Homo sapiens: one gene and its partners. The protein of the gene in region 1 purifies or fractionates together with the protein of each later gene. This does not show direct contact. Each region holds a gene or a part of one and is shown in the gene's direction. Other genes may lie near its edges.

Evidence for each region.
Region 2: the proteins of RFC5 (region 1) and POLD3 purify together in Homo sapiens (tandem affinity purification; one large-scale study listed by IntAct). This does not show direct contact.
Region 3: the proteins of RFC5 (region 1) and HADHB fractionate together in Homo sapiens (co-fractionation; one large-scale study listed by BioGRID). This does not show direct contact.
Region 4: the proteins of RFC5 (region 1) and HLTF purify together in Homo sapiens (affinity purification with mass spectrometry, with the first as the bait; one large-scale study listed by BioGRID). This does not show direct contact.
Region 5: the proteins of RFC5 (region 1) and NBEAL2 purify together in Homo sapiens (tandem affinity purification; one large-scale study listed by IntAct). This does not show direct contact.
Region 6: the proteins of RFC5 (region 1) and RRP1B purify together in Homo sapiens (co-immunoprecipitation; one large-scale study listed by IntAct). This does not show direct contact.
Region 7: the proteins of RFC5 (region 1) and MYSM1 purify together in Homo sapiens (affinity purification with western blotting; one study listed by BioGRID). This does not show direct contact.

The regions. Positions count from the first base shown.
Region 1 is NC_000012.12:118,018,964-118,023,426, forward strand, and holds part of RFC5 (replication factor C subunit 5), read left to right. Parts: intron 1-108; coding exon 109-173; intron 174-668; coding exon 669-805; intron 806-1,942; coding exon 1,943-2,022; intron 2,023-3,322; coding exon 3,323-3,396; intron 3,397-4,463. UniProt on the Homo sapiens protein: Subunit of the replication factor C (RFC) complex which acts during elongation of primed DNA templates by DNA polymerases delta and epsilon, and is necessary for ATP-dependent loading of proliferating cell nuclear antigen (PCNA) onto primed DNA.
Region 2 is NC_000011.10:74,637,300-74,641,259, forward strand, and holds part of POLD3 (DNA polymerase delta subunit 3), read left to right. Parts: intron 1-3,264; coding exon 3,265-3,467; 3' UTR 3,468-3,960. UniProt on the Homo sapiens protein: Accessory component of both the DNA polymerase delta complex and the DNA polymerase zeta complex.
Region 3 is NC_000002.12:26,282,939-26,287,401, forward strand, and holds part of HADHB (trifunctional enzyme subunit beta, mitochondrial isoform 1 precursor), read left to right. Parts: intron 1-65; coding exon 66-113; intron 114-1,178; coding exon 1,179-1,266; intron 1,267-1,944; coding exon 1,945-2,019; intron 2,020-2,468; coding exon 2,469-2,633; intron 2,634-4,463. UniProt on the Homo sapiens protein: Mitochondrial trifunctional enzyme catalyzes the last three of the four reactions of the mitochondrial beta-oxidation pathway.
Region 4 is NC_000003.12:149,040,819-149,045,281, reverse strand, and holds part of HLTF (helicase-like transcription factor), read left to right. Parts: intron 1-2,991; coding exon 2,992-3,116; intron 3,117-3,601; coding exon of another isoform or gene 3,602-3,613; coding exon 3,614-3,792; intron 3,793-4,463. UniProt on the Homo sapiens protein: Has both helicase and E3 ubiquitin ligase activities. Possesses intrinsic ATP-dependent nucleosome-remodeling activity; This activity may be required for transcriptional activation or repression of specific target promoters.
Region 5 is NC_000003.12:46,996,351-47,000,813, forward strand, and holds part of NBEAL2 (neurobeachin-like protein 2), read left to right. Parts: coding exon 1-242; intron 243-400; coding exon 401-483; intron 484-603; coding exon 604-696; intron 697-908; coding exon 909-1,083; intron 1,084-1,210; coding exon 1,211-1,344; intron 1,345-1,716; coding exon 1,717-1,876; intron 1,877-2,112; coding exon 2,113-2,215; intron 2,216-2,366; coding exon 2,367-2,529; intron 2,530-2,608; coding exon 2,609-2,767; intron 2,768-2,919; exon of another isoform or gene 2,920-2,949; coding exon of another isoform or gene 2,950-2,964; coding exon 2,965-3,124; intron 3,125-3,279; coding exon 3,280-3,365; intron 3,366-3,538; coding exon 3,539-4,054; intron 4,055-4,463. UniProt on the Homo sapiens protein: Probably involved in thrombopoiesis. Plays a role in the development or secretion of alpha-granules, that contain several growth factors important for platelet biogenesis.
Region 6 is NC_000021.9:43,672,569-43,677,031, forward strand, and holds part of RRP1B (ribosomal RNA processing protein 1 homolog B), read left to right. Parts: intron 1-1,301; coding exon 1,302-1,387; intron 1,388-2,067; coding exon 2,068-2,129; intron 2,130-2,465; coding exon 2,466-2,595; intron 2,596-3,703; coding exon 3,704-3,768; intron 3,769-4,164; coding exon 4,165-4,346; intron 4,347-4,463. UniProt on the Homo sapiens protein: Positively regulates DNA damage-induced apoptosis by acting as a transcriptional coactivator of proapoptotic target genes of the transcriptional activator E2F1.
Region 7 is NC_000001.11:58,675,779-58,680,241, reverse strand, and holds part of MYSM1 (deubiquitinase MYSM1), read left to right. Parts: intron 1-3,185; coding exon 3,186-3,316; intron 3,317-4,463. UniProt on the Homo sapiens protein: Metalloprotease with deubiquitinase activity that plays important regulator roles in hematopoietic stem cell function, blood cell production and immune response.

The DNA.
Region 1 (4,463 bases):
GCTGGGATTACAGGCATGAGCCACTGTGCCTGACCTGCAAGGATTCTTTTGCACATAAAATATTCTTGCATTTATATATGTCATAATACATACTAAATTGTATTTCAGGGTTGAAAAATACCGGCCACAGACCCTGAATGATCTCATTTCTCATCAGGACATTCTGAGTACCAGTAAGTATTCATGTGTCAGTTGCTCTTGTCCTGCTTGAGCGACTTGTATAAATTGCTTGGTGATGTTGTCTCTCCTAAGTAATAACTTCAAAGAATCTGATTGCGCTTTGTAGAATGTGGCTTTAAGATCATTCATTCATTTTCTTCAGGTTGCTACAGTCCAGTGGGTAAGTCACAAACATGAGCATAAAATTGCAACACAGTGGAGTAAAAATAGCATTACGGAGAATCATTTAAGTTCACAGATGTTGCCAGCACCCAGAAAGGTGCCTGTAACACAGTAGGCACTCAATAAATACTTGTTGACTGGCTGCGCTATTGAGTGAATTCCAGTTGTTCCACGAAAGTAGATATGAGGCCCCTACATCAAGTTGTATCTGCCTCTGATTTGGACATTGAATTGGGTTGAAGAGCTTTCAGCCCAACTCAGGAGCCCAGGGTGAATGAGGCAGCTCCCAAAGACTGATGGTGCCCTTCTTCCTTCCTGATCCTCAGTTCAGAAGTTTATCAATGAAGACCGACTGCCACACTTGCTTCTCTACGGTCCCCCAGGGACAGGCAAGACATCTACCATCCTAGCCTGTGCGAAACAGCTATATAAAGACAAAGAATTTGGCTCCATGGTCTTGGAGGTAAATAAGATTGTTCTTACTCTACAAATAACTTAAGAGACTCCAGTCTCTTAATTTCAGTTCTGCTGGTTTTATTTTACTTTAAAAGTAAGTTGCCCCACGGACAGTTAGGAAAGAAGTAAATTTGAATATTTTAATTCCCTTTTTCCTATAATGGTCATTTTGGTCTGGATTAGCGTTGGTCAGCTAGAGGGCAGTTGTAGGGTTTGGCACCTTTTTCTTTGCTCTTGCCAACTTCTCCCCAAACCTTACTTTATGGTGACTTGGTTGCTGCCTGTCTGCCATGGCCCCTCTAGATCAATTCTCCACGTTTCTCCACCATATTCCTGCCTGGAAGGCTGAGCCCTACTGACTATAAGCTCACTTACCCTCTGGCTCCTGGTTGGGTTTGGCCAATAGGGGCCTTGGCAGGGGTGGGGGAAGGAAGTGAGTGATGCCTGGGCCTTCCCTGGGGGCTGACACAGGCTGGCAGCATGGCCCACCTGTAGGGTACATCTCACAGGTGGTACCTTTCCTGCAGCCCTCTCCAGGTGCCTACAGCCACTCCCTTCACTAAGCCCTTCAGGCTCAAGGGTGACAGGTATTGCATAGCCCCATGGTTTTCCTATATCACACCTTTAAAAAGATCTTGTTTAATTCTCTTCAAATTGCTGCATTTGAGTATGCCATCTGTATATTGCTGGGACCTTGACTAATATACTTAGATTCAAAAATCTGAGTATTGTCTATTGCAAGAAAAGTTTAACTTACTTTTTAGACGCAGGTCTCAGAACTTTGCTGCTACTAATGTCCTTATTTCAGTTTATTAAGAACTTGGTAACTTAGGATTGTGGTAGCTGAAATTTGTATCATTCTGCTCATACCAGAGGTGCTGTTCAGTGTAACCATACCAATTAATTATTTCTCCAATTTATGTCAGTCATTGTCCTCAAAGGGTGGGGGTAATATAGCCATCTTTATTAATTTAGTGAATTTTGTGTAAAACTGATTTTTTATTTTATGATGATCTCTTAGCCATCATTAGACATAGAGAGCTAGCCTGCTGAGCTGGACTGATGAGGAAATACACTAACACCAAGAACTCACAGATAGCACAGCAACATGGTTTTTGTTTTGTCTTCTGTCTTCCACATTTAGCTGAATGCTTCAGATGACCGAGGAATAGACATCATTCGAGGACCGATCCTGAGCTTTGCTAGCACAAGGACAATATTTAAGTAAGAATTATTTGTGTAATTTCGCTCCCTTGATTTTGATTAGTAAGATGATATGGGTTAATTTTTTAATCCTCTCCTTAGCCAGTTTATATGGGTTGAAAAAAAAAGTGACTTTGTCCAAAGCAACCATGGAAAAGAGATAAACGAGAGGGATGGTAGTAAGAAGCGTTATAATGCAACTGTTAAAATAAAATGTTATCTACGCTTGTATTAGCAAGTTTGTTTTTTTTTTCTTTTTTTTTTGGAGACAGGGTCGCCCTGTATCGTACAGGCTGGAGTGCAGTAGCATGATCTCGGCTCACTGCAACCTCCACCTCCTGGGTTCAAGCGATCTTCCAGCCTCAGCCTCCTAAGTAGCTGGGACTACAGTCGTGAGCCATCACGCCCAACTAATTTTTGTATTTTTTAGTAGACATGGGGTTTTGCCATGTTGCCTAGGCTGGTCTCGAACTCCTGAGCTCAAGCAATCTGCCCGCCGCAGCCTCCCAAACTGCTGGGATTACATACGTGAGCCCAGCCTGCATTACCAAGTTCTTTAGGGAGCATTAACTTCATTTTTAGTTCCTGAGAACTGGCTAGATTACCCTAAGACTGGATGAGCTAGTTTGAATTTAAAAATAAATTGAGATCAGGAAGGACAACTAGGATGGTGGCTAAAAAAAAAAAAAGAAAGAAAGAAAAAGGGTGAGGGCCGGGCGCAGTGGCTCACACCTGTAATCCTAGGACTTTGGGAGGCCTAGGCAGGTGGATCACCTGAGATCAAGGGTTCAAGACCAGCATGGCCAACATAGTGAAACCTCGTCTCTACTAAAAATACAAAAATTATCTGGGCATGGTGGTGGGCGCCTGTAATCCCAGCCACTCAGGAGGCTGAGGCAGGAGAATCGCTTGAACCCAGGAGGCAGAGGTTGCAGCGAGCCAAGATCGCGGCACTGCACTCCAGCCTGGGCAACAGAGCAAAAACTTAGTCTCAAAAAAAGCAAAAGGGTGAGGGACTCAGGCATGAGTGAGGGAGACGGGAAAAGCAGTAGCATGGTAGGGTGCCATGTGGAGGAAAGTGAAGATGCCAGAGGACACAGCGCACAGAAGTAGAGAAGTCTCCTCCATTCCCACCAAGGGTTGAAGGAGTGATGCGGCATTTCCTCTCTGAGTGACCAAAGATGTCTGCCTTGGCCAAAGTTCTAGAAGAAATTGTCTTTCTGAGACAGGGCCCGATGGCACAATGGGAAGATATAGGTTTGAGCCCAGATGTTGAGATGAGATTGAAGAAATCTTTAGACAGCACCATTTGTTTTTCTAGGAAAGGCTTTAAGCTAGTGATCTTGGATGAAGCAGACGCCATGACTCAGGACGCCCAGAATGCCTTGAGAAGAGGTAAGCAGAGGCACTGTGGAGCGTTTGGGCTGGTGTGCACACTGGAAGGAGAATTAGGAACTTTGTGTTTGTTGCTGTTGTCATTGTTTTTTTAGGCGGGGGGGAGTTTTTTTTTCTTTTTTTGAGTCAGAGTCTTGCTCTGTCACCCAGGTTGGAGTGCAGTGGCGCAATCTTGGCTCACTGCAGCCTCTGCCTCCTGGGTTCAAGCGATTCTCTGACCTCAGCCTCTTGAGTAGCTGGGATTACAGGCATGCACCACCACACCCGGCTGATTTTTATATTTTTAGTAGAGATGGGGTTTCACCATGTTGGCCAGGCTGGTCTCGACCTCCTGACCTTGGGTGATCCGCCCGCCTCGGCTTCCCAAAGTGCTGGGATTACAGGAGAATTAGGAACTTTAAGCTTCCCAAAGTGCTGGGATTACAGGAGAATTAGGATGTGAGATATGGCTTGGCTTGTTTTCAGTTTTCATCTTCTGGCCCAGAGAAATCTCTATGCCTTTCTCTGTGTCTCCCATCTAATGACACAGGCTAGATACCTCTGTAGCGGGACTTCCCCTTCAGCAGCCTAGGGACTAAGCCCTGCGGGGACTTTTAAGTCTGGCCAGTCACTGGTGTTCAACCTCCTTTGACACTGGGTTCAATTTCAGAGTTGGGAATTCATATCTTTCCGTGGGATGGGGTGTGGAAAATCTTTCATCCTTAAGCTATCAGATAGTCCTTCTGCTAATAGTACCCTCTCCTTTCTACTAATGGTACCCTTTGAACCACAATGGCTAGGAAAAGCATATCTGAAGTTGAGGTGCTCAGAGAGCTGATATTACTTCACTGCTTGCCAAGTGAATGATTTGGCAGCGGGAGGGACAGCACCCTGCGATTTGTCTGTCTTCAGGGGCCTAGCGCAGTTCTTTTCTCTTAAAGGACACTTGTCATCTCTCATTAAGATTCCAAGTGAATCAGCTTTGAGAGAAGAACGATCTTTAGGAGTTTGTGGCGAGGGAGTAGATGGCAGCACATGTTAAGAGAAGGATGGGGGAAGGGGGAGGAGGAGGAGGGGGGAGGAGGGGA
Region 2 (3,960 bases), on another chromosome or scaffold:
TCTGCCATTTTAATTGTAACATGTGATTGGGGAGTAAAATTCTTTACGTGTGGAAATTCTGTCTTTTCAGTGCCAAATTTCTTGTGAACCTGTGAATTCTGGACTTTGAATGGGTTTTTTTTTTTCTTTTTCTTCCTTTTTTTTTTTTTTTTGGCTTTCAGTCTTTTAATAGTTGCCATTTTCAAGCCTCTTGGTTTGGCCATGGGTGATAATATATGTGTTTACTGTTGAATTTCTTAATTCAACAGTGCATTTTTTAAATTTAAGAGGACAAAAACATTGGTGCCAGTTTTTTCCTCCTCTTTCTGCCCCAAAAGAAAAAAGTCAAACGTCTTTGTGAGAGTGAGAGTTCATTGGGAATTTGTGGGTAATTATTTATTGCTTTGTTTAAAATATAGTACTCGAGTTTTGGCCAGGTGTGTGATGTGGACTTTTTTGCACTCCTGTCTCCAGACAGGACTGTTAAGAGCCTTGGATGCAGCAGTGAAAACTGTGCTCACATTGCACTTTTTTTTTTTTTTTTAAAGGTTTTTGGTCCAAGCTCAACCTAATGAATCTTGGCTTTGGTTACCAACAAAGGAGTTCTGCTTTCCTCTCTCTGCTCAGACTGTTCCAAATGTACCAGCATAGGGGGCTTGCCCTGTCCTGTGCTGGATCAGATTTGTTCTATGGGTTTAGAAAGCTCATCTTTCTCTCTTTGTGACTTTGCAGCAGAAATTGGGTAGTTGGGCCCCTGAGATAAGTTTGGAGTAGACTTCTGGACAAGGGAATGGGTTTCTAAGAGCAAAGCAGTTAAGTGGAAAAGAAATCTGATGTTACCCACGAAAACCAGGTTTGTTTGCCTTTTTTTAATGGCAACCCAGAAAAGTGGCATGTTGTTCAGCTAAAATAAAGGCCCTATATTTTTAATGGAGACCTCCTTTTTTCTGGGGTTTGCGGTAGCTACAGCTTTGAATATAGAAATATTCCTTTTAGTTCTTACAGTATACTGAATATGCTGCTAAAGAAATTTTGTTGGTGCTGCCCTGACTGTTTTTTAACTCCCCTGAGCAATGTCTCACACAAAATTGGCAATGAGACAGCCATTGATTTCATTAATAAGTAATGAAATAATGAGCTAATTGATGCTGAAGTATAATGTAGACATGCTGCCATTTGAGTACAGAATATAGCTTATGAAGGAGCAAAGTCTTATACCACCAACTAGTAGAAAGTAATTTCCTTTCTGTATCTGTAGATGGCTCTTCAGACTTTTCTAATTTAAGATATTGAATAAATAACAGCTCGTAATTTTGTCCCATTAATTCAGTTACATAATGCTTTTGAAGATGCATGTGAGATGGAGGTGGTGTTCTGGGGTCTAATTGCTGAACGAATAGGTATGCCATGGGAATTCTCTAATTATCTTAGAGCAACATTTCTCAAACTTTGCCGGCTATGTGCATTACTTGAAGATCTTGCTAAAATTGAAATTCTGCATCAGTAGGCCAGGAGTGGGAACTGAGAGTGCATTCCTAATAAGCTCATGGGAGATTCTGTTGCCTCTGGTGTGCGGAGCACAATTTGAGTAGTAAGGCCTTTCAGAATACTTAATATATATCTAAAATTTATCAGTATTTTTTAGCCTCTAAGTGAACATCAAAGTGAATTCTGGGCTCTTACAAAATTAAAGACAAACTCTGGGAACTCTCTGGGAAGGGATTGTTGATTATGCAGCCTTAATGGGATTAGCTGGATAAGAGGGACGGAATGCTCCAGTGGCAATTGCACTTCAACATTTAAAACAGGGAAGGAGAGAACATTAATTCCCAGAGTGTGGTCCCCAGACCAGCAGCATCAGCATTATCTGGGAGCATGTTAGAGAAGCAAATTCTCAGGTCCCACCCCAGATCTGCTGAGTCTGAAACTTGAGAAACAGAATCTGGCAATCTATGTTTTAACAAGCCCTCCAGGTGGTTCTGATGCACAGTAAAGTTTGAGATGATATCTTAAGTAGCAGAGTAGGTATTGGGACACACATACATTTGATTCCAAAGCTTATGCCTCTAGAACAATTTGATATATTTTATTAGAAAGAATTATCAATAAAAGCTCAAGACTGTCATTGTTCTTTAATGGAAAAAAAAACCTTTTACTTTAATCATTTGAGCATTTATTATGCATATTAGGTTACGCTTTTCAGCTAAGAACAAGCTCTTTTCCTTCAATGTTTCTCTATCGCTTGCTGCAACCAGGAAGGCTGAGAAAGAATTTAGATAGCATTGGTTATACAGCTGCCACAGCTCTCTAAAATTACAGAAAGGTGGCATGCTGTTTCTTGTGGTTGGTATATGTGTTGCAGTAGTGTAGATCCTCCTCGGTTATGTGACGTCATGGCTGGAAGCCACTATCTGTGCCTGTGTCCTTTGGGGCTTGCTCATAATGACTGCTTACTGTTACAGTTCTTTTCCAAGTTTCCCTTGGGAAGGGTTCAGTGAGTTTTAATAGCAGGGGAAAAGCAATTTATGCCTTCGGCTGATAGGGAGTAAGAAAACTGGTAACTTTGTTTCTCAATTTATCACTGTCATTCCTTTAACACGTGTGTCATCCGATAGCATTTGCTTGAGATAGTTAACCTTCATGATACAGACTACTACTAAATTTTGGGTTAATTTGCAGCCATTAAGAACTAAGAACCGAACAGTTGAGTAACTAATCTTCAATTCTCTGTACCTAGGATGTGCAGAGAGTGGGTGGCATCAGGTTAGAGCTAGACAGGAGGGTCCATGGTGACCTTGGTTAAACAGAATGGAGGCAGGCAAATAGGCCAGCAGTTTAAGACCAGTAACGGGAATAGGCAGGCATTGTAGGTCAGAGAGGTGATACTTAAGAAGCCAGTCAAAGCATGGAGTTAGAAGTAAGTGTTTAAGATATAGACAATTCGGATATAGAGTTCAGGAAGTTAGCCAGCATAGGCCAGGACCCAAATAAAGGATTTAGGCAATTCACTGATAAAGGGCCATTTAAAGGCATGGGATATAGCTGTGAGGGAGAAAAGTGAACGTTAATTCTAAGCATCAAATAGAGACTGTGTGAGCTCAGGATCCCACATAGTTCCTACCTTAGGCTAGATCTGATCTCCCAGTGGGAGAAAGATTGAGTCCTAAGTAAGCATATTTGCCTTGATCAGAGTCTGAAATGATTGGGGTTAGCAAGACATCCCATTTTCTTCATAGAGTAAATGATTCAGCCCACCCATGTTCCATTTTTTTCTCATCCTACCAGTGACTGAAAAAGTCTACGAGAGTGAATCCTGCACAGATAGTGAAGAGGAGCTTAACATGAAGACATCCTCAGTACACAGACCCCCTGCCATGACTGTGAAAAAAGAACCCAGAGAGGAACGAAAGGGCCCCAAGAAAGGGACTGCTGCTCTGGGCAAAGCCAACAGACAGGTGTCCATTACTGGCTTCTTCCAGAGGAAATAAACTGCCATCTCTGGTAGATCAGAGACTTGGAGTGGTCAAGGGAGAAGACCAAGAAATGTACTCCTCACTTACTATGTAAGTTCATCTAGATCTCCACCTCACCTGTATCAAAAGACTGTTCTTTCATCCTGTGAGGTTTATACTATTTCTGGTTTTTAACCAAAAGGAAATCATCTGGAAGCAGGAGGCAAAAAGCTGTTACCTTCTAATGACATTTAAAAAGCACAGTCTTTGACCTGTCCAGGAGAAGGATTTACTCCAAAATTATACTGGAACAGTTTTCAGAATTCTCACTGAAGCCATTTAGTGGCTAACCCACTGTGCTCCACTCACCCTATGCCCTGGTCCGCATATGGCACAGGAATTATTCCTTCTTGTTCCTCTGTATTCTAAGAATTCATGTGGGTGTTTCTTATCCTTACATTCTGCTGGATACGTTTACCCCTCTTGTCTTCCTGCAGTACCACACTTCTGTCCCCTAACCTCCTGAGGC
Region 3 (4,463 bases), on another chromosome or scaffold:
CAAACAAATCATCTCTGATTTCTTTATTTTATTACCAAAGCTCACCTCTCTATTTTTTTACCTAGGGATTTTATGTATGTGTCTCAGGATCCAAAAGATCAACTATTACTTGGGTAGGTAGCAGTTTGTATCCTTGGACTATAATCACAAGTATTTGATTGCCTATGTTTTATTATACTGGTTAATAAATGATTAACACTGGTTTATTATTTATTTGTTTATTACACTGGTTTGAGAGTATATTAAGCCCTGAGTTCATAATTGGTTTATGTGGTGGTTTTTTTAAAAAAAATAATAGTAATCTGGCCGGGCACGGTGGCTCACGCCTGTAATCCCAGCACTTTGGGAGGCCGAGGTGGGCAGACCACGAGGTCAGGAGATTGAGACCATCCTGGCTAACACGGTGAAGCCCTATCTCTACTAAAAATACAAAAAATTAGCCAGGCGTGGTGGCGGGCGCCTGTAGTCCCAGCTACTCGGGAGGTTTTGGCAAGAGAATGGCATGAACCCGAGAGGCAGAGCTTGCAGTGAGCCAAGATCACGCCACTGCACTCCAGCCTGGGCGACAGAGCGAGACTCCATCTCAAAAAAATAAATAAATAAATAAAATAGTAGTAATCCTTTCCATTGGTATATCATGTTACAGTTTTGGATTATTTTCCATTTTTTTCCTATAAGTTTTACATATATATATGGACACACACAACTTATATTCTTTTTCATTAAGATAGCATATGCATTTTTTCATATGGCTACACACCCTGCTACACAATCTTCCTAATATAGCCTTTTATAAAAGCCTCCCCATGTTTAGACTCTGTTCCGTTCCCTCACAAGGCTGTAGCCTCTAGCCTCCACTGTGACGTTCACATCAGTCAAGCCCTTTCCCTTGCCTTGCTCTTTGAACTCTGTTCTTCCAGTTCTTCATGTTATTAGCTTGTCCTTATCCCTCACTGTTTATTTATTATCAATTTCTCTGACTCTGCAACATAAGAGTAGAGGGCATGTCTGTACAGTTTCACTATTTTATCTTTAACATTTCATTAATCAGTACAGAAAAATCAAAGAATGAGTGAAAAGACATTAGAGTACCTATGTAAAACTCAGTTTGGGGAATATGAAGGAGCTCTTAGTTTAAAAATTAAAGTTTTAAGATATTACTTATTTTTTCTTTGCAGACCAACATATGCTACTCCAAAAGTTCTAGAAAAGGCAGGATTGACCATGAATGATATTGATGCTTTTGAATTTCATGAAGCTTTCTCGGTAAGTAATTTGAAAGACACATATGAAGGGACTATAGTCATAAAAAATGTCATCCATATTTGTGGGAGAGAGCAAGGCATGGTTTATGATGTGAGTAGAGCAGGAGTGGACCTGCATATTTTAAGTACTGATTCACACTGCTGGGAGGGGCCCGAGGGGAGGGAAGCAAGGGCCACACATACAGTGTTGGAGAACATACCAAATTGCTTCTTTAGGAAATTGCCATTGAAAACTGATACAAAGATTTGTTCAACTTTACTTTTTTTTTTTTTTTTGGAGACAGAGTCTTGCTCTGTTGCCCCAGCTGGAGTGTAGTGGCACGATCTCGGCTCACTGCAACCTCCGCCTTCCAGGTTCAAGCAATTTTCTTGTCTCAGCCTCCCGAGTAGCTGGGACAAGCAGGCGCCTGCCACCATGCCCGACTAATTTTTTTTATATTTTTAATAGAGACAGGGTTTCACCATATTGGTCAGGCTGGTCTTGAACTCCTGACCTCAGATGATCCACCCGCCTTGGCCTCCCAAAGTGCTGGGATTACAGATGTGAGCCACTGTGCCTGGCCGATTTGTTCAACTTTAAACCATACCTAAAGTTGTTAAACTTTCACAAACCATTCCTATAAGAAAGCGTAGAGGAACATGAATAACGAGGTTCTTATTCGATTATTTTCTCTTCCAGGGTCAGATTTTGGCAAATTTTAAAGCCATGGATTCTGATTGGTTTGCAGAAAACTACATGGGTAGAAAAACCAAGGTGAGTTTCTAATTTTAAAAAATGCGTGAATTTTCAAAGCACGTTAATAATTGGATCTTAGTTACCTGTTCTTAAGAATATGAAGGGAAAGCTTCTCTTTCTTTTGAAGAATTTTGTCTTTCATTAAAGATATTTATTTCTTAGTGTAAAAGTAGAAATTCTTGTATTTCATTAAATATATTTATTTCTTAGTTTAAAAATAGAAATTATTTAGCAAAAATAAAATTCTGTGTTTTTTGTTCCTTGCATTCTGACATTAGATGAAAAATAAATGGACTCCTGACTTTTAATATTGACCTAGACTTACTTTCTTTTGCAGTAAAATTATTTGTAATATGTCTGACGTTACGTATTTTCCTCTATCTCTCTTACTTCGTAGTACTAAGAGCCTAGCTTGATTCTGATCTTAAGTAAACTTATCTTTACATTTGTGTCTTTGGGGGAGCCAGGTTGGATTGCCTCCTTTGGAGAAGTTTAATAACTGGGGTGGATCTCTGTCCCTGGGACACCCATTTGGAGCCACTGGCTGCAGGTTGGTCATGGCTGCTGCCAACAGATTACGGAAAGAAGGAGGCCAGTATGGCTTAGTGGCTGCGTGTGCAGCTGGAGGGCAGGTACGTTACAGTGGTGTCATAGGACCCTCCAGAGAGTCATTTTCTTGGAATGACTAGAATGTATGATTTAGTTTGAAACCTTCTTAAAGCAATATTTTTGATGACCTGGGGGTGGGGAGTGGGGAGGGATAACAGCTGTAATTCTGATAAAACTTTTTGTTTTTTGGGTTTTTTTTTTTTTTTTTTGAGACAGTCTTGCTCTGTCACCCAGGTTGGAATGCAGTGGTAATATCTTAGCTCACTGCAACCTCCACTTCCCGGATTCAGGTGATTCTCGTGCCTCAGCCTCCCGAGCAGTTGAGATTACAGGTGTGCACCACCATGTCCAGTTAATTTTTGTATTTTTAGTAGAGACAGAGTTTCGCCATGTTGGCCAGGCTAGTCTCGAATTGCCGACTTCAAGTGATCCACCCTCCTTGGCCTCCCAAAGTGCTGTGATTACAGGCATGAGCCACCATGCCCTGCCATAATTCTGATAATTCTTTGGAAGGAAACAGCTATTTAAACCCAAGCTATTTTTCCCCAATATAATGTTTATTTTTTACTTATAAATATATGCTGATTATGAAAATTGTGGAATATATGAAAAGTATATAGAAAAAGTTAGAATCATCTATAATCTCCCCATCAGACATTAACATTATTAACATCTTGATATATTTTCTTCTTTAATAATTAACTTTTATTTATCTAGTCACCATAAGACTTTATAAAATCTCTCCAAGAGAGAAACTATCTTTCTAGAGAACTGAATTATACCTTAACTGGGGAGTTAATTTACTTCTGGATAACTTACTGCTGTTCAGCTGGGGAAATATATTGTTGACAGATTTTTTCCTTTCTACTTCACTTGCATTAGAGACCCAACTTCCTGACTGCTGTAGCATCTCACTCTAGGAATAAAATCCAAAAGGAAGATTGTAGTTTGTTTTTTGTTTGTTTGTTTTTTGAGACAGAGTCTCACTCTGTCCCCCAGGCTGGAGTGCAGTGGTGCCACCTCGGCTCACTGCAACCTCTGCCTCGCGAGTTCAAGCGATTCTCCTGTCTCAGCCTCCTGAGTAGCTGGGATTACAGGTGCTCACCACCAAGCCCGGGCAATTTTTTTTGTATTTTTAGTAGAGACGGGGTTTCACCGTATTGGCCAGGCCGGTCTCGAACTCCTGACCTCAGGTGATCCGCCTACCTCAGCCTCCCAAAGTGCTGGGATTACAGGCATGAGCCACTGTGCCTGGCCTGTTTTTGTTTTTTTTTTTTTTTTTTAATCCCGATGTGAACAGATTTTCTCTTCCTCTAGATTACAGAAACTTCCTGTTCCTGATCAAAATGAATAAATATTTAAAAGCATAAACTGGCCGGGTGCAGTGGCTCACGCCTGTAATCCCAACACTTTGGGAGGTTGAGGCGGGTAGGTCACTTGAGGTCAGGAGTTCGAGACCAGCCTGGCCAACATGGTGAAACCTTGTCTCTACTAAAATTATAAAAACTAGCCTAGTGTGGTGGTGTGCGCCTGTAATTCCAGCTACTCAGGAGGCTGAGGCAGGGGAATCGCTTGAACCCGGGAGGTGGAGGTTGCAGTGAGCCGAGATGGCGCCATTGCACTCCAGCCTGGTGACAGAGAGAGACTCTGTCTCAAAAATAAAGTAAATGAAATAAATCTTACGTTTAAAAGCCCTTTTTCATGGATTTTCCTCAGAGACTTTGCAGAAACCAAGGGGTCAGTTATTTATCAGTTGGAACATTTTGGACTTTATGATCACAAATGCTTTTTAATCTGTGTAACTTCATCTACAGAAAACCATGGTCCATTAAGACTAGAGCGATCCCTCTATC
Region 4 (4,463 bases), on another chromosome or scaffold:
TGAGAAGATGATATATAGGTAAAGATCTAAAGGAGATTGGGATTAAGGGGTGTTTCAGCCAGAAGGAAGAGCAAGTGTAGATGCTCCCAGTTGGGAACATGCCTGGTGAGCTTGAAGAATAACAGAGAAGCAAGTGTGGCTGGATAGTATGAACGAGAGAAAATAGTCATGATATCAGAGATTTATTGGAATGGGGGTATGTAACGCATATGTCAAGGACTTTGGCTTTTACTTTTTATGACAGGAAACCTTAAAGGGTTTTGAGCCAGGAGAGGGACGTAATCTGATTTATATTTTTAAAAGATCACTCTGGCTGCTGTGCTCAGATTTAGGTTATTTGAATAGGAATAAGGTCAGAAGTAGGGAGACCAGTGGCAGTCAAAGCAAGAGATGATGGTGGTTTTTACCATAGTAGTGATAAAGGGAGTGAGAAATGATTAGATTCTGTTAAATTGTGAACGTAGAACCAACAGAACTTGCTGGTTGATATGTTATGGCATGTGAAAGAGGAATCAAAGATAACTTCAAGCCTTTTTACCTGCATAAGTGGAAGGCTGGAATTGCTGTTTACCAAGACAGGTCTATGGGAAGAGCAGAGATTTTTTTAAGCTAAGATCAGAAGCTCAGTTTTGGACACATTGATCATAGGATGCCCGTGAATTTTCCAAGTAGAGATATCAAATAATTAGTTGGATAGGAGAGTCGAGTTCAAAGTCAGCTATGTGTGGATGGTAATTAAAGCCATGAGATCACCAAGGGAGTGAGTAAAGTGAAAGAGATCTAACTGTGAAGATAGCAATGGCTGGTGAAATAGGAGGAAGGAAGCTTCTAATATTTAGCACATGGTAGGCACTCAAAAGAGATCTCTTAAATTGAAATGCTGAGTATCAGTAAGATATGACCATGCCAGGGAATAATTAGTGTTAGTAAAGGTTATTCTATTTGAAAAAGTTGAAAAAGATTAACTTTATTGAAACTGTTCTCAGAAAATAAGTTATTTTTAAAGTATTCTTTTTAATAGGCTATATATTTACTAACATTTATTTAGCACTCACTAGGTGTTATACATTGATCTTAGTGCTTTAAATGTATTCACAGCAATCCTATTAGGTCAGTATAATTATCCACATCTTATAAGTGAGGAAACTGAGGCACAGAGCAGTTTAGGTGACTTACACTGTTGTCACACAGCTAGTGAGTGACAGGACAGATTAACTCTGGCACTTTGGTTTAGAGCTTGTAAGTTTAATCTTTGTATTATTTTGCCTATTCCTTGCATTCTTGAATATTCAGAAATGTTTGTTGCCATAATACTACCAGTACTAATACTAGCAACAGATTCATGTATAGCACTTAATATAGTCCAGGCACTATTTTAAATACTTTACATGTATTAAATTAAATAACAGTAGTTGTATGAGGTAGGTACTTTTACAATGCCACTGTTAGAACTGAGGAAGCTCAAGACATAGGTTAAGCAACCTGTCCAAGGTTACATAATTAAATTGGCACAGCCAGGTTTTGAATTCATGACCAGCTAGCTCTAAAAATTTGTACTCTTAGCCGTTAGGCTATATTTCTTCTGTTGCCTTAAAATACTTAAATATCAGATGGCCTGGTTATATAATTTTTGGATCACCCATTTCCTTAAGAATCTATGTTGTCATTGTACCACTGTATTTTGTATAGAATGTTTCTGTGGGGAAGCCTGGTTTTTTTTTTTTTTTTTTTTTTCCCTCTGAAGTTCAGCAACTTCTTTGTTGACTTTCCCCTGGGACATGTGATATTATTTAAATCTTTAGATTCCAGGCTTTTCCCCCCTTCTCTTTCCTGGAAAGCTTTCTTTAAATATTGTTTTCTGTTCCATTATTTTATTTCTCTCTGTGTATGTTAGATGTCTTTTATCTGTGTTCCATAGGTATCATTTTATTTCTGATCTTTTACATTTTTTTGTTTAATTTTGATTTTCTCAGTCCTGTTTCCTACATCCTTTTCTATGTTTTTATCAGTGACTAGTCTTTTTTTATATTGGCTTATATTGGTTTCAGTGTGACTTTCATTTCTCTGATGATTCACTGTTTTCTTTCACTTTCTTGAGCCATACCAGCTCATCTTTCATCTCTTCCTGTTCTCTTGCCATATTTTTTCAAAGCTCTTTGTCTTTGCTTTAAGATTTTTTTTTTTTGGAGGAATTGTTTTATTGAGTGGTGTTAAATTGTGACAGTATCCTTGGTCATAATTTTTATTTGCTCTGTGGCAACATTTTTCTGCTGAGTTTTCTTTCACTGCCATGTGTCCCCTACCTTTGCTCTCTGCTGATTATTACTTATATTTGAATATCTTGAGTTCTTCTTGGACTAGCTATTTGCTAGTCCAGATATACAAAAGGGAAAGGTCACAATCATGTCCCCGACCAGCAGGAAATAACCCAATTTACTTAAGACTCAGGGTTACATGTTGAGTTACTTTAGGTTTTATTAGTACACATAAACAGAGATCAGAAACTTTAGGGGTGCTTGGAGTGTAGAGTGCTGTGCCCATAGTCTTTTTTTGAAAATACAGTGCACCTGTATGTTTCTGTATTCAGTTTACCTTCCCTCTTTTTTTGATATAAATTTCTCCATGGAAGCTCAAGTCACCAAGCATGCACCCTGTTCCTGTTTCTGCACATGAGAGGTATTGATTTTCCCCTCAGGGCATGCCATCCATTTTAAAGAATTGTGTTTTGGCAGCTCTGTTTGAGATCTGCAGTCATCCCTCTCAGCATCTTCCTATCTGACTTAGACTGCAATTGGCAGCCATTTCTCATATATTGTGCCTTATTGTTATAGATCTCTCTTGGTTTTATTAGAGTTGCTTTTCTGCTTTTCATTCTTGTTTTGGAGTAATTTCTAGAGAAGAAAAGAAAAATGCCATTTTACTCTGCTGTTTTAGAATAGGAAGTTATTATTGTTTAGCGGACTTAATAATATTTGACATTTTAATCTCTAGGTATTTTAATGAAGGGACTGTCCTGGCACATTATGCAGATGTCCTGGGTCTTTTGCTTAGACTGCGGCAAATTTGTTGCCATACTTACCTTCTTACAAATGCAGTGTCTTCCAATGGCCCCTCAGGTAGGTAAATTTGATTGCTTCATATCATTGTATTTGTCAGAGATACTTAAATAAGAGTGATAAATTTTTTTTATGTGGCATACATTTAGTTTATTTTGTTCTGTCAAATGGAGATTGCTTTTAGTGTGAGACTCAGCTAGGAATACATCCAATAATTTTTTTACCAATGAAATGGAATTATAATGAGGTCTTTCCAGGAATTCCGGTGATAGATACCCTTTGATGAAAGATTCATATTGGATCTGCCTTTTATTGTGTGGTGGTATGTTATTGTCATGTTATAATGATGCTTCTCTATGAGGTATATTATGTGAGTTGGCTACTATTTTGGCTTCTGAATGTTTCTTAAATTTCAAATTTAAATTATGCTTTTTGCCTATGGCAGAAAATGATGAGAGACTTTCCCTACTGGCAAGCGAAACTTTTCCTTATAAGATAGATTAACTTGTCATATTACAAACCTTGCTCTGAAATTAATTTTTCAGCCTTTTCTCTAGGAAATGATACACCTGAAGAACTGAGAAAGAAGTTAATAAGGAAGATGAAGTTAATTCTGAGCTCAGGTTCAGATGAGGAATGTGCAATTTGCCTGGATTCTTTAACAGTTCCTGTGATAACACATTGTGCACATGTATTTTGTAAACCCTGTATTTGCCAAGTCATTCAGAATGAGCAGGTTAGTTTTTTGCTCAGTACAGGTTCAGTGTTTGATAGAGTAGTGTACCTGTCTTTAATATAATAAAAGATAGTATATGGAGTTTTGCACTTGGATTTAATAATATACCTTTGATAGTTAATTATTCCAGTATTTTAATAGGTGATATATTTCTTCTAATGCAACATTTGCAACATAAAAAGATGTTCACAGTCAATATCTTAATTCCGCTGTTTATATCATTGCTGTTCAATAAATGGATTGATAATGTGAGACACAAAGATAATTTTCAGTTTTCTAGTAGTCATACTCTTAAGTAAAAAGAAACATTAAGCTAATTTTAATACATTTGTATTTAACCCAATATATCTAAAATATAAAAAGTATTAATGTGCTTTTTACAAAAAACTAAATCTTCAGAATTTGGTGGTGGTGTATACTTACAGCACACCTCAATTTGGCTTAGCCACATTTCAAGGACGTAATTGCCCCATGTGATTATTGGCTATTGTGTTGGATAAGGTAGGTCTAGATTCTTTTGTGTGGTAGAATTTTTTTGAAGTTGACTAGTCTGTTAAGCAGTCATTCAGCTGGGGTAGAATTTTTTTAAACATTTTAAATTGATATATAACATATGTAGAAAAAATGTATAAATTCATAATTAAATAGCTCAGTCAATTATGAGGTAAACA
Region 5 (4,463 bases), on another chromosome or scaffold:
CGCCACCCTGGCCTACACTCACCCCGCCCTCACCCGCTCCCAGTCAGTCCCAGCCTCCACAGGGCTTGGCTGGGGGTCCGGGCTGGTGGCCCCCCTGCAGGAGGGCAGCATCGACTCTACCCTCGCAGGCACCCAGGACACTCGGTGGGGCAGCCCCACATCCCTGGAGGGTGAGCTGGGGGCTGTGGCCATCTTTCACGAAGCCCTGCAGGCGACGGCTCTGAGGACCCTGTGCACCCTGGGTATGCAGCATTCTCCATCTCTGCCACAGCCCCAGGCCAGAAGCTAGGGGTCCGGGGGGAGAAGGCATCTCTGGGGGTCTCTCCTGTGGTCAGGCAGTCTCTGGATGGGGTTTGGCCAGAGGCCTAGCAAGGTCTGAAGCCCCCTGCCCACCTCCCAGGGCCCAATGAGACGGCACCCTTCAAGCCTGAGGGGGAGCTGCATGAGCTCAGCACCAGGCTGCTCCTCCATTACTCACCTCAGGTATTTGGGGGCCCCAGGGGAGTGGTTGGCTCGACTGTGCTACTTCCCCGGCTCCCACACTCTGCCTGCCACCCCCTCCTCCCTCTGACCCTGGCTGCCTGCCCATTCCCCTATCCCTAGGCTTGTAAGAACAACATCTGCCTGGACCTGTCCCCCAGTCATGGGCTTGATGGGCGCCTGACGGGCCACAGAGTGGAGACCTGGGATGTGAAGGTCTGTGAGCACGTGTGGGTGGTGTGTGCAGGAGGCATGAATATGGGGCACATGTGTGTTCGGAGTCAGCTGGGGAGCAGCGCTGTGCCTGGGGAGGATTTGGACAGTCCAGCTCAAGAGAGCAAAACTTCCTTTCTGGGTGGTCTGCTGGGGTGGAGTAGGGCAGGAAACTGGCTGGAAGGTCCCCCTCACTGCCATCCTCCTTCCCCCAGGATGTGGTGAACTGCGTTGGGGGTATGGGTGCCCTGCTGCCCCTGCTGGAGCGAGTAGCTGCACAGCCCAAAGAGGCTGAAGCAGGTCCAGCTGAAACGCATGACCTCGTGGGTCCTGAACTGACCTCTGGTCACAACACCCAGGGCCTGGTTCTCCCATTGGGTAAATCTTCAGGTAAGTGTTCCTGGTGCCTATGTTGTGGAGAGGGAATCTTGGCATGGTAGGGGGGTGGAATGCCCAAGGTCTCCTGGCCACTGGCAGGCCCTTGACACACATCTGTCCCCTTCCTGATGGCTGGCAGAGGAACGGATGGAGAGGAACGCAGTGGCTGCTTTTCTGCTGATGCTGCGGAACTTCCTTCAGGGTCACATGGTGAACCAAGAGAGCCTGGTGCAGTGCCAGGGGCCTGCCATCATCGGGGCCCTCCTGCGAAAGGTGGGGCCCGGTGGGACAGGCATGGGGGTTAGGGGTATGGTCAGCCTGTCTGACCGAGGGGACTGAGTGGGGAACCCTGTCAGTCATGAAGAACCTCCTGGGAGAGTTGCCACTTGAGTGGGGCCTGAAAGGCCGAGCAGGGTTGGGTCTGGAGGATCTGGGGAAAGGCCCAGCACAGGTCGGGGCAGGGACCCGCACAGCAGGCAGGAGGCTTGCGTGTCAGAGGCGGCAGGAAGCCCCCAAAGGGTTCTGAGCAGGCTGGTGGCCATGTTTGTGGCCGTCATGGCTGTGCAGGGAAGAGTGGCAGCTGAAAAGCTCAGACAGCAGACAGGCAGAGCCTGAGCCCTCACTCCAGCTCCTGTCTTATCCCAGGTCCCAAGCTGGGCCATGGACATGAACGTGCTCATGTCCGCCCAGCTGCTGATGGAGCAGGTGGCAGCTGAGGGCAGCGGGCCCCTCCTGTACCTACTCTACCAGCATTTGCTCTTCAACTTTCACCTCTGGACCCTCAGTGACTTCGCCGTGCGCCTCGGTAGGTGTGAGGACCTGAGCAAGGGGCCGGCCATAGGGCAGCTGAGCACTGAGAAGTTAGAACTCTGCTCTGGGGGATCTGAGGGACTCACCTGTTAGGAATCCAGAATGCCATGGGGCGGCTGAGGGGACTATGACCCTGCCCTGGAAGTCTGACAGGCACATGGCCCTGGCCTGGAGGATCTGAAGGGCCCAGCTCAGCCTAGTGGCCTGAGCCCTCTGCTCATTCCCGCTCAGGTCACATCCAGTACATGTCCAGCATAGTTCGGGAGCACAGACAGAAGCTGCGGAAGAAGTACGGCGTCCAGTTTATCTTGGATGCTCTGCGCACCCACTACAGGTGAGGCCAGTGGGGCCAGATGGGCCATGGGGGGCTGACACAGTGGCCTCCGGCCTTGGGGACTGGGCGGTGCGCTTCCCTGACTCACCTGCCCACCCTCTCTCCCCGCCTTTCTTTGGGACCTGGCTGGGTGTGCCTACTGACCTGCCAGCCCGCAGCGGGAGCGCCCCCTGGCTGCTGACGACCTACGCACCGTGCAGACCTCCCTCCTGGGCCTGGCGAGGGAGTTCCTGGTGCGGAGTCTCTCAGCAGATGACGTGCAGGTCACGCAGACCATGCTGAGCTTTTTGGCGGCCACAGGCGATGACGGTCAGGTAGGCTGGAGGTTGGGGAGCGGGAGGCTTGGGTGAGGGGAGTGGGGGCCCGACACAGTGTGAGACCCTGCATCCCCAGGCGGTGGGTGCGCTGGACCTGCTGCTGGCCCTGCTGCACGGTTCCCTGGTGCAGGAGTCCTTGGCTGTCTTTCTGTTGGAGCCAGGGAACCTCGAAGTGCTACTGGCCCTGCTAGTGCGGCCAGGGTCACTGCCCCTGCTGCCCGATCGAGTCTGCAAGGTACACCCAGCCCACCCCCTCCCCTGGCATCCCATTCACTGGGGCCCCTGCCTGGGGTTCAGGGAGGTACAGCAGGCCTTGGGCCAGCGGATGAAGCTGCCTTCAAGGGCCTCTTGAGCCACACACCTGCACGGTGACTTCCCCTCCTACAGTAACTCCTTCCACATGATGACAGTCCTCCGATGACCCCCACACAGATCCTGCGCAGACTGCAGCAGAATGAGCGGCTACCTGAGCGGAGCCGCCAGCGCCTCCGGCTGCGGGAGTGTGGTCTCCAGGGTCTGGTTGCCTGCTTGCCTGAGGGGACTGTTTCCCCCCAGCTCTGCCAGGGCCTCTACAAGCTGTTCCTGGGGGCAGGTACAACCTGGTTAAGGCCAAGTGGAGGGGGTGACATGTCAGAAAAACAGGGCAGGCAGGCCGGAAGAAGGAAGATAGTGGCATAGGGGCCAGGGCTGGGCCCTGCCCTTTCTAGTCTGGTCAGTCCCTCAGGTCCCCCCAACCCATCCCCCCAGATTGCCTGAACCTCTCAGATCTGCTGGCTGTGGTACAGCTGTCCCTCCAGGCTGACCTCAGCGTTCGCCTAGACATCTGTCGCCAGGTGAGCATGAGAGGTAAAAGCTTTGGGGGAGGGGGAGGGTGGCTTCTACCCTCTGGCCTTCCACCTTGCCTGTCTCATGAGGGGTCTCTGGAGCCCTCCTCTGCAAAGGCCCTGGATGAGGGTCTGGAGCAGGCAGTTGGATGCGTCCTCACTTGCTGTGCTCTCGCCTGCAGCTTTTCCACCTCATCTACGGACAGCCAGATGTAGTGCGGCTTCTGGCCCGACAGGCTGGCTGGCAAGATGTGCTGACCCGGCTATATGTCCTGGAGGCTGCCACAGCCGGCAGCCCCCCTCCGTCTTCCCCAGAGTCACCTACCTCCCCCAAGCCAGCCCCACCCAAGCCACCCACTGAGTCACCTGCTGAGCCTTCAGATGTCTTCCTGCCCTCAGAGGCCCCCTGCCCTGACCCTGATGGCTTTTACCATGCTCTCTCCCCATTCTGCACGCCCTTTGACCTGGGCCTGGAACGGTCTAGTGTAGGATCAGGCAACACTGCTGGTGGTGGCGGCAGCAGTGGGACTCTTACTCCAGCCAGCCAGCCCGGCACTCCTTCGCCACTGGATGGGCCGCGGCCCTTTCCTGCTGCTCCTGGCCGCCACAGCTCCAGTCTCTCCAATGTGCTGGAGGACGGCAGCCTCCCGGAGCCCACCATTAGCGGGGATGATACCTCGAACACCAGCAACCCACAGGTGAGGTGGGCCCACCCTCTGCCACTGCATGGTACCCAAGGGAGGACACTTCTGGTACACAGGGCTGGCAGTGTAGCCTCTCCAAAGGTGTGGCCCTGTCTGACCAGGGTTGCAGCCACTGGTCAGGCCTATTGCTGTCCCCTCATAGCTCTCATCTGCAGTTGTGTTCCCAGAGGGCTCCTGGAACAGGGTGAGTCATGATGAGCCACAGTGGGTGACACCAGCCAGGCTTCAGAAGGGCCCTCAAGAGAGCCTGTAGGGCAGACACCTCACAGGGTCCAAGGGCAGCAAACTCCAAAGGCCCTGCCCTGGGCTTCTGGGTTTGGGGATGGGCCTCTGCTTGTTCTATGTGAACTGCCTCATCTCCTCTTGGGAGTCTGGCAAGACCCCAGGATTCTGCCTGGAACTC
Region 6 (4,463 bases), on another chromosome or scaffold:
TTTTAGAAATAACAATCCTCCAGAATCTTCAAATTCTGAGTTACTTTAACACTTGGAGCCTGGAGAGCCAGATGCAGGGTCCACGGTGACCTCTGGATGCCAGGTTCGTCTTCCCCAAGAGCAGAGCCGTCACTGGTAATAAATACATAGAAGACACCACCGGTCACAGACTATGAAGTAACTCCTCTCAACCATAGAGAAAAAAAATTAGTTAGGGTGCTTCTGTGTCAGGCGTTGATTGCTTATAAAGGAAGAAAAAGGTAGCCGACTTCGTTTGTTCTGCTTAATGCTCTTCAGAAAAGCATCCTAATGATTTCAACCACCCCCAGTGGTGCTCTGAATATTAGCTGACTCATATTGAACAAAATTCTACATATGATGTATAATAGATTTACAAAGATGAAAAAAGAATTGTGCAAAAAGAAATAAAGCCAAAAAATCAACAAAAATTGTTTTTGAATAAAAAAGTGCTAGTTCTGTGGGTCAGAAGAGAAAAATTCAGTGTTTTGTACCGTAGCTCACCCAGATGCCACCTATAATCAGACAAAAATATGAGTTTCTATATGGATTATATAAGTGTCAGAATTAATGGTTTTGAACTGATTGTGAGGTACCAGTGCAGTAGGAAGAGTTACTAGAAGTGGAACAAGGAGTCTTGATTTTAAAAGAAACGTGGCTTTGCAGTGGATAAAGGAAAAATGCTCCAGAGAGCGCTCAAATCTGACATTGCAATGTTGCCAGCCCTTCCGGTTATTCTGTTTTTATTTAAATTCAAAAGACCAAGGCCAGGCACGGTGGCTCACGCCTGTAATCCCAGCACTTTGGGAGGCCGAGGTGGGTGGAACACCTGAGGTCAGGAGTTTGAGACCAGCCTGGCCAACATGGTTAAACCCCGTCTTTACTAAAAATACAAATATTAGCCGGGTGTGGTGGTGCACACCTGTAATCCCAGCTACTCGGGAGGCTGAGGCAGGAGAATCACTTGAACCCAGGAGGCAGAGGTTGCAATGAGCTGAGATCATGCCATTGCACTCCAGCCTGGGCCACAGAGTGGGACCCCGTCTCCAAAAAAAAAAAAAAAAAAAAGTAAAAGATCTGCACAGTCTAAGTGATGTTTAATAAATAAGTGTAAAAGAAATGATTGAGTATATTTAATTATCAACAGATTTTCTAGCTGCCCAAGAATTACTGAGAAAAGTGAATAATAAATAATGCTAGTTTGTTCCTCTTCATTATTTTCTTGCTATATGGTAGTATGTTGATGTGGAAGCCAAGTATTTAGAGCCTTTTGTTCACTGCAGAACACCTGTTCATTCAGACCTTTTGGCAAACCATGAATCGAGAATGGAAAGGAATAGACAGGCTACGCCTGGACAAATACTATATGGTAAGATCTGCCGCAGTTACTTCAAAAACTCCTGGGAAGAAAAGAATGTCCTTTATCTTAAAAACAATGGGAAGGTTTATTTGTGAAGCAAAACAAGCCACAGGCTTAGTGTGAAGGAAGAATTTGAATGTGTCCTGGAAAGCTTCTCTGTTTTGGCTTTTGCAGTTCTTAAGGATGAGTTTGGGGAGCATTAGTGAATACGTTGGGTATTTTTTGAGACAGAGTCTCTCTTGCTCTGCTCCCCAGGTTGGAGTGCAGTGGTGCGATCTCAGCTCACTGCGACCTCCGCCTCCTGGGTTCAAGTGATTCTCATGCCTCGGCCTCCTGAGTAGCTGGGATTACAGACGCGCACCACCATGCTTGGCTAATTTTTGTATTTTTAGTAGAGATAAGGGTTTGCCATGTTGGCCAGGGTGGTCTTGAACTCCTGGCCTCAAATGATCTGCCCACCTCAGCCTCCCAAAATGCTGGGGTTACAGGCATGAGCCACTGTTCTTGGCTATGAATATGTTTTTTGATCTAGAAGGTAAATATGACTGTTGTGAATATTTTTTTACTTTTGGGATCCAGGCCATAACAATTTCATTGGTCCCTTCATTCTGCTGAGCTGATTAATATTTCTTACCTTTCCTTTTTTTTTTTTTTTTTTTTTTTTTTAAACAAAAATTGCCTTTCTTTAGCTGATTCGTCTGGTCCTGAGGCAGTCCTTTGAAGTCTTGAAGCGAAATGGCTGGGAAGAAAGGTCAGTAAACCATTTGAGTTAGCATGTGGTAGCCTTAAAACTTAAAAGGTAGTAGAGTGTCAAGTTTTCTGAACTTGTAGAGTACCAATGAGAAGCTCGATACATCGTTACCTATAGAGAATTGAAATCCAGTAGAAGGCATAAAACAGTTAAGTATATATGACAGTTAACATTTTATCCTGATTTAAGTGATTGCTTTTTTCCTTGTAAAATGATTTCAGCCTTGCATTGATTGTTAGGCTGTGTAGGTTCTAGACGGAGTATTTTTGTTTCTCTTTGGGAAGTGGGACGTGTTGGCATACTGTCATTCACAGAAGCATGCGTTTGGTTCTTTAGCCGAATCAAGGTTTTCTTGGATGTCCTGATGAAGGAGGTCCTGTGTCCTGAGAGTCAGTCTCCTAATGGAGTGAGATTCCACTTCATTGATATTTACCTGGATGAACTCTCCAAAGTCGGGGGGAAGGAGGTAAGCAGCTGCCGACAGGCTGCCCACGGGGTGAGGGGGCCGCCAGTGTTCGCAGTAGTCGCCAGTGAAGTGCTGTGGGGTGGCCCTTCGCATGACCAGCGACTGTAGCAGCGTGAATTGCTTCAGTCCTGTCTGGGAATGTGTCCTAAGCAGCTGGTGGGATGGGATTTGTGCACTGAGGATGTACATGACAGTCTTACCTGTAAAACGGAATTGAAAGCAACCTACAGACTCCACTAAAGAACTCACTAACACGGGGGAGTACTCAGGATCTAGGGAGCTTTATAAAGCGCTAGGAAAAGCTATGCAAATGGTAGACATTTTTAAGGTATATACTCATAAATAGACAAAAGGCTGGAAAGGAAACATACATTTTTTAGTATGCAAATGATTCTCTGAATGTGGGAATGTGCACAGATTTTACTTTTCTTTCACAGGTGTTTTGCAGGGAACATGTATTTTTTTGATTAAAAGAAAATATGTTATATTCAAAACAATAATTCTTTTGTCTCACACTTGGAGGCACTGTCCCTGTTACCCCTCTTGTAGAGGAAGTATATGTATGTCCTGTATCAGGTTTGTCCAGCCCGCAGCCTGAGAGCTGCATGGGGCCCAGGGCAGCTTTGAATGTGGCCCAACACAAATTTATAAACTTTCTTAAAATATGAGGGGTATTTTGCATTTTATTTTATTTTATTTTATTTTATTTTATTTTATTTTATTTTATTTTATTTTTAGCTCATCAGCTGTTGTTAGTGTTTGTGTATTTTAGGTGTGCCCCAAGACAGTTATTCTTCCATTATGGCTTGGGGAAGTCACAAGATTGGACACCCGTGTTGTATATGTTGGGCATATAGGATAGTGCAGGTCAGGCTGGGTGGCTTTCTCCAGCCACTGCACTAAGATACCAAGTAGCTGGAGGGCGGCCTCAGTCTTCAGCCTGGCTCCAGGCTTCTGTGGCATTCCACAGGGGCGCTTTGGGGCTGTGTGAGACAGGCATTGCTTGGTCTAACTCCACCTTTGTAAAAGATGGGAATGGTCCCTTTTTCAAGGACATGTCAAGAAGGGAAAGGCTCTTTCTCAATTTTTCCCTTTTTCTAAATTACAGCTTTTAGCAGATCAGAATCTCAAGTTTATCGATCCATTCTGCAAAATTGCTGCGAAGACGAAGGAGTAAGTGATTCCCCTGTTCGTTCCTCCTGCTCCGTGGCATTTGCTCATGGGAGTTACTTGCCGTCGTGCAGCCTGGCACAGGGTACCCAGGACACTGCTTCACAGCAGAGAGCGGCTGGAGAAGACAGCCGAAGCTTTGAGCAGTGATTTGGCTCTTCTAGCTTCAGTATTTGCCTCACTCATTCCAGGAATGCCCTCCCACACCCAAAGATCTGACCGCTGGGCGTCCCGTGCCTGTCGGGTGGCACTTAGGCAGTTCCTCTCAGATGCTTGCTGGCCCGTGGGGGCCACTCCAGACCACAGCAACGTGTGCAGGGCTTCCCTCTGTGCCCCTGAAGCCAGAAGGCCAGGCCGTTTGTTCTCATCACATGCTCTCCGCTGTGCTTCTACCCTCAGCCACACCCTGGTACAGACCATAGCTCGGGGTGTCTTCGAAGCTATCGTAGATCAGTCTCCTTTTGTGCCTGAAGAGACGATGGAGGAACAGAAGACAAAAGTGGGTGATGGTGACCTCTCTGCTGAGGAGATACCTGAAAATGAGGTATCCTTGAGAAGAGCTGTCAGTAAAAAGAAGACAGGTAGGAGGATGTTCTTGGTCAGTGTAGCTTTCTTTCTGCTAAAATCCTCCTCAGACAAACAGTTTTTAATACATTTGTTGGCATCTTACTGAATGCAACCTAGAGTTGATGGCTCTG
Region 7 (4,463 bases), on another chromosome or scaffold:
TGTGTCTGTAAATCACTCTTTTATTCTACATGGCCTAATTCACACTAATGACAAAGACTAGTTAAATTAGATTTCTATTGGTATCTACTTTTGTTTTTGGAAATAAGAGGGTGAATGGCCAAAATTTAAGGACCTTGAAATCATAACTAACTCAAAAATGTCCATATTGGTCAGGAGTAGTGGCTCACAACCTTTTTTTTTTTTTTTTTTTTTTTGAGACAGAGTCTCACTCTTTCTCCCAGGCTGGAGTGCCTTGGCATGATCTCAGCTCACTGCAACCTCTGTCTCCCAGGTTCAAGTGATTCTTCTGCCTCAGCTCCCATGCAGCTGGGACTACAGGTGCGTGCCACCACGCCCGGCTAATTTTTGTATTTTTAGTAGAGACTGGGTTTCACCACATTGGCCAGGCTGGTCTAGAACTCCTGACCTCAGGTAATCCACTCACCTCGGCCACCCAAAGTTCTGGGATTACAGGTGTGAGCCACCACGCCCGGCTGACTCACAATTTTCATCCCCGTGCTTTTGGAGGCTGAGACAAGAGGATTACTTGAGGCCAGGAGTTCGAGACTAGTTTGGGCAACATAGCAAGACCCTGTCCCTACAAAAAATTTTTTTAAAACTTAGGCGCGGTGTTGTGTGCCTGTAGTTGTAGCTACTCAGGAGACTGAAGCAGGAGAATCACTTGAGCCCAGGAGTTTGAAGCTGCAGTGAGGTGGGATCATGCCACTGTACACTAGCCTGGGCAACAGAGCAAGATCCTGTCTCTTAAAAATGTCCATATGAATGATCACTATATTCTTGTTACTTTAATCAAATTCTATATTTGTTACTTTGAATTTTGAATTCCAAATGAGGCAGATTAATTTATATAGGTACTATAAATTACATGGCAATAGTTTCCTAAGTCATTTGCCTTGGTTCATGAAACTGGTTAGGTATTGCTATTTCATTATGGTGATTTAGCAGAACATTGTGAAAGCAAAAATTGTTTTGAACAGGAACTCACATTTGTTCAGAAATAGAAGAGAGTGAGTGGTTAGGCACTGGAGGTGGTGTTAAAAAAAAATAGAAGAGTTAAAGTTTTGAAATAAAAAGAAGCCTGCCAGATTTGTTTATAGATAAAGATTCTTTTCATAAAAGCAGATGCAGTTGATTCCCTGGTTAGGGGAATATTTTTATTAAAATAGTAACCAGTACCATTACTGAATGCCTCCCGAATACCATGTACTGTACTTAAATCATCTCCAATCCTTTTGACAACCTCGTTCTCACTTTATAGATAAGAAAAATGAGGTTCACAGAGGATAAAAAACTTTTCCAGGTCACACTAGGTAAAGGAGATATTGGAGTCTGCAGTCTTGACTCATTATTTTCACACTTCCAACTCATGGCCTTGACCCTGACTTTTCACTCTGCTTTGGATGTTCTTCCCCCATATTTTGTCAAGTGTTGCTTTCTTGTCTCATTGAAATCTGGTCGAGGGAAATTAGAGGCTTATCTAAAATATCTCACATATCTCCTCCCTTTCATTCTCTTGCCCTGTATTTTATTTTCTTTATAGAACTTATTACTACCACAAATAATTACATTTTTATTTGTTTACTGTCTCTTCTCCCCTCAACCCCCATGATAATGCAGGCAACATGAGGGCAGATTTTTATCTGTTTTGTTTGTTGTTGAATCTAGTTCTTAAACAATGCTCAGAATATAGAAGGTACTCTTATTTGTTAGGGGGAAAAGATCGAACATGAATCATTATTCCATGAACATATTTTTAGAGTCCTTACCATTTGTTCAGCACTGTGCTAGATTACTGAGTTCTGTTTAAAGCCTTTTACTTTGAGTAGTCTTCAGTTAGCTCAGTCTAGTTTTTTCAGACTCCTTTGGTTTCTTGGTAGCCATACTCTTGCCTGCTTTATTGCTTTCATTTGTACAATTTTGTTTCATTTTCTTGCAAGACACACTGAAATCTCAACGTTTCTATGGAAGGTGTGGTACCCTCCCACATCACAAATTATTTTTACCCTCTATTCTGCTTAGTGAGGCCTAGCCTAAGCACCCTATCTATCTAAAGTAGTCTATGCCTGTTTGTCCCACTCTATCCCCTTGACCTTCTTACTTAGCACTATTGCTACCTGAAAGTGTAATATATATGGTTCATTGATTATTGACAGTCCCTCCCATTAGAATGTAAGATCTGTAAGGTTAGAAATTTTACATTATCTGTGTATCTCTAGTGCTTAGAACAATATATTCATGGAATAAAATAATGATCGAATGAGAAATACCCATGTTATATGAGATATCTGAATACCTAAATTTATAATATCTATACTTGAATCCTGATTATGTCCCTTCCTTAAGTAAGTGCTTTACTCTGACCCCCTTGCTTCCTCATTTCCAAAATGAGAATAATATTAATAAAATCTACCTTGTATAGTTGTAAAGATTAAGGATGTGTAACTCAGCACAATAATCTGGCTTAAGCATTCAGTAATTAGTTTCTACTAAGTTCTTTATTACTCGAATTTTATGTTGTACCATCTAGCAAGGTACATTAAGTATATTCAATAAATACGTGTTTTATTATATAAACCTCTTATTTCTTTCATAATCTTTGGGAGTTTCTTGATTTCCCCTTTGGAATCCCTTATAACGTCTGTTTCTGTTTTCCACTGAGAGTAAGCACTTAATATTTGTTGTCATCATAATTAAAAACAAATATAAAATGTTTAAGCATTTGTAAGATAGCTGATAATTGAAAGACACTGTTAAGCAAAATAAGAGTAGATGAATCTAAGTAATATATTACAAATTGGAAACGTCTAATACTAAATCTTTTCTATATATTATCAAACTGCTCTTTGTATTTAAAGATTCAATTTGTGTCTGTACATAAATTTCTGAATTCAAGGTCCTGGGATAACTGGAATCTATGAATTTAACATTGGGGAAGAAATATTGCTTGTAAAAAATTATGCTAATAAGTTATTGTATCATTTAAGGATATTTTATTTCAGAAAAAAAGTACATGGGTATTATGTATTAGTATTGTATTTATTACACATTTATACATTGAAAGGGGTTAAAATTTAGAGATATTTCAAATATTGAAAGTTTTCCCCAGAAATCTTTTTTCACGTTTTTATTTATCCAAAATAATTGTACTTCTGTCTCTTAATTAGGGAGATATGCAAACCAAAATACTTAAATAAGACCTCAGTACGTCCTGGCCTGAAGAACTGTGGAGATGTTAATTGTATTGGACGGATTCATACATACCTCGAATTGATAGGAGCAATCAATTTTGGATGTGGTAAAAATAAAAACCCAACAACATCTTTTACTCGACATTTTTTATCCTTACAGCACTTATTCATTTCTATGATGGTTAGAATTCAAGTAGTTATAGGTATATAGAATTCAGAGGTGCTGTAACATTATTTAATAAATGTTTTATTAAGATTTTACTGTTGGTTAAACTGTGTTTTCATTTGACCTACACTGAAAATTGAGAGTGTAACTTTAAAGGTAAAATATTCAATCTAAGTAATAGAAATAATTTAAGAATACAGTTCTTTAGCAGATAAAAGTAAAATTATTTTATGAAAAGTCTAATAATAGCCCATTTAATTTGCAAATACTGTATTCATGCTAGAAATACTACCTAGCAATGTTTAAATAAAGGAAATAATTTGTGAGCCTCTACACTTACATGTGATAAAAGCGTCAAAATATTTTTTGTGGAAGACAATTGTACCTTAGTTTTTTTCAAATTTAAAGTTAATGAATATACATATTTTAAAATATATTCTACTCTTTTTTTTTTTTTTTTTCTCGCTCTGTTGCCCAGGCTGAAGTGCAGTGGTGTGATCTCTGCTCACTGCAACTTCCGCCTCCCGGGTTCAAGCGATTCTTTTGCTTCGGTCTCCAGAGTAGCTGGGACTACAGGCGCATGCCACCACACCTGGCTAATTTTTGTATGATTAGTAGAGACGGGTTTCACCATATTGGCCAGGCTGGTCTCGAACTCCTGACCTCGTGATTTGCCCGCCTCAGCCTCCTAAAGTGCTGGGATCACAGGCGTGAGCCACCGCGCCTGACCTCTACTCTTTTATTGAATTAAAATGACACAACCATTCATAGCTACAAAGTGATAAGGTACATAAAACCTTGTAACCCATGGTTTAAGAAGAGTATATTCTGTGTTTGTCTATGAAAGGGAGACAACTAACAAGAAGATTTTCTGTCAGATATGATTTTCTTTTATATTGAGCTAGATAGAATTTAGTTTGCCCGGGAATCTGTCCTTCATTTCAGTGTCTTTGTTTTCCCAAAGCCTTGAATATTGAGACTAGCTTTTCAGGAAAACTAAAGGATTTTTGCTTCCTCAGCCACCAAAAGAAAAATTAAATCATGTTTTCTGTATTAGACTGCCAAAGTTAGCAAACTACCCATTTTCT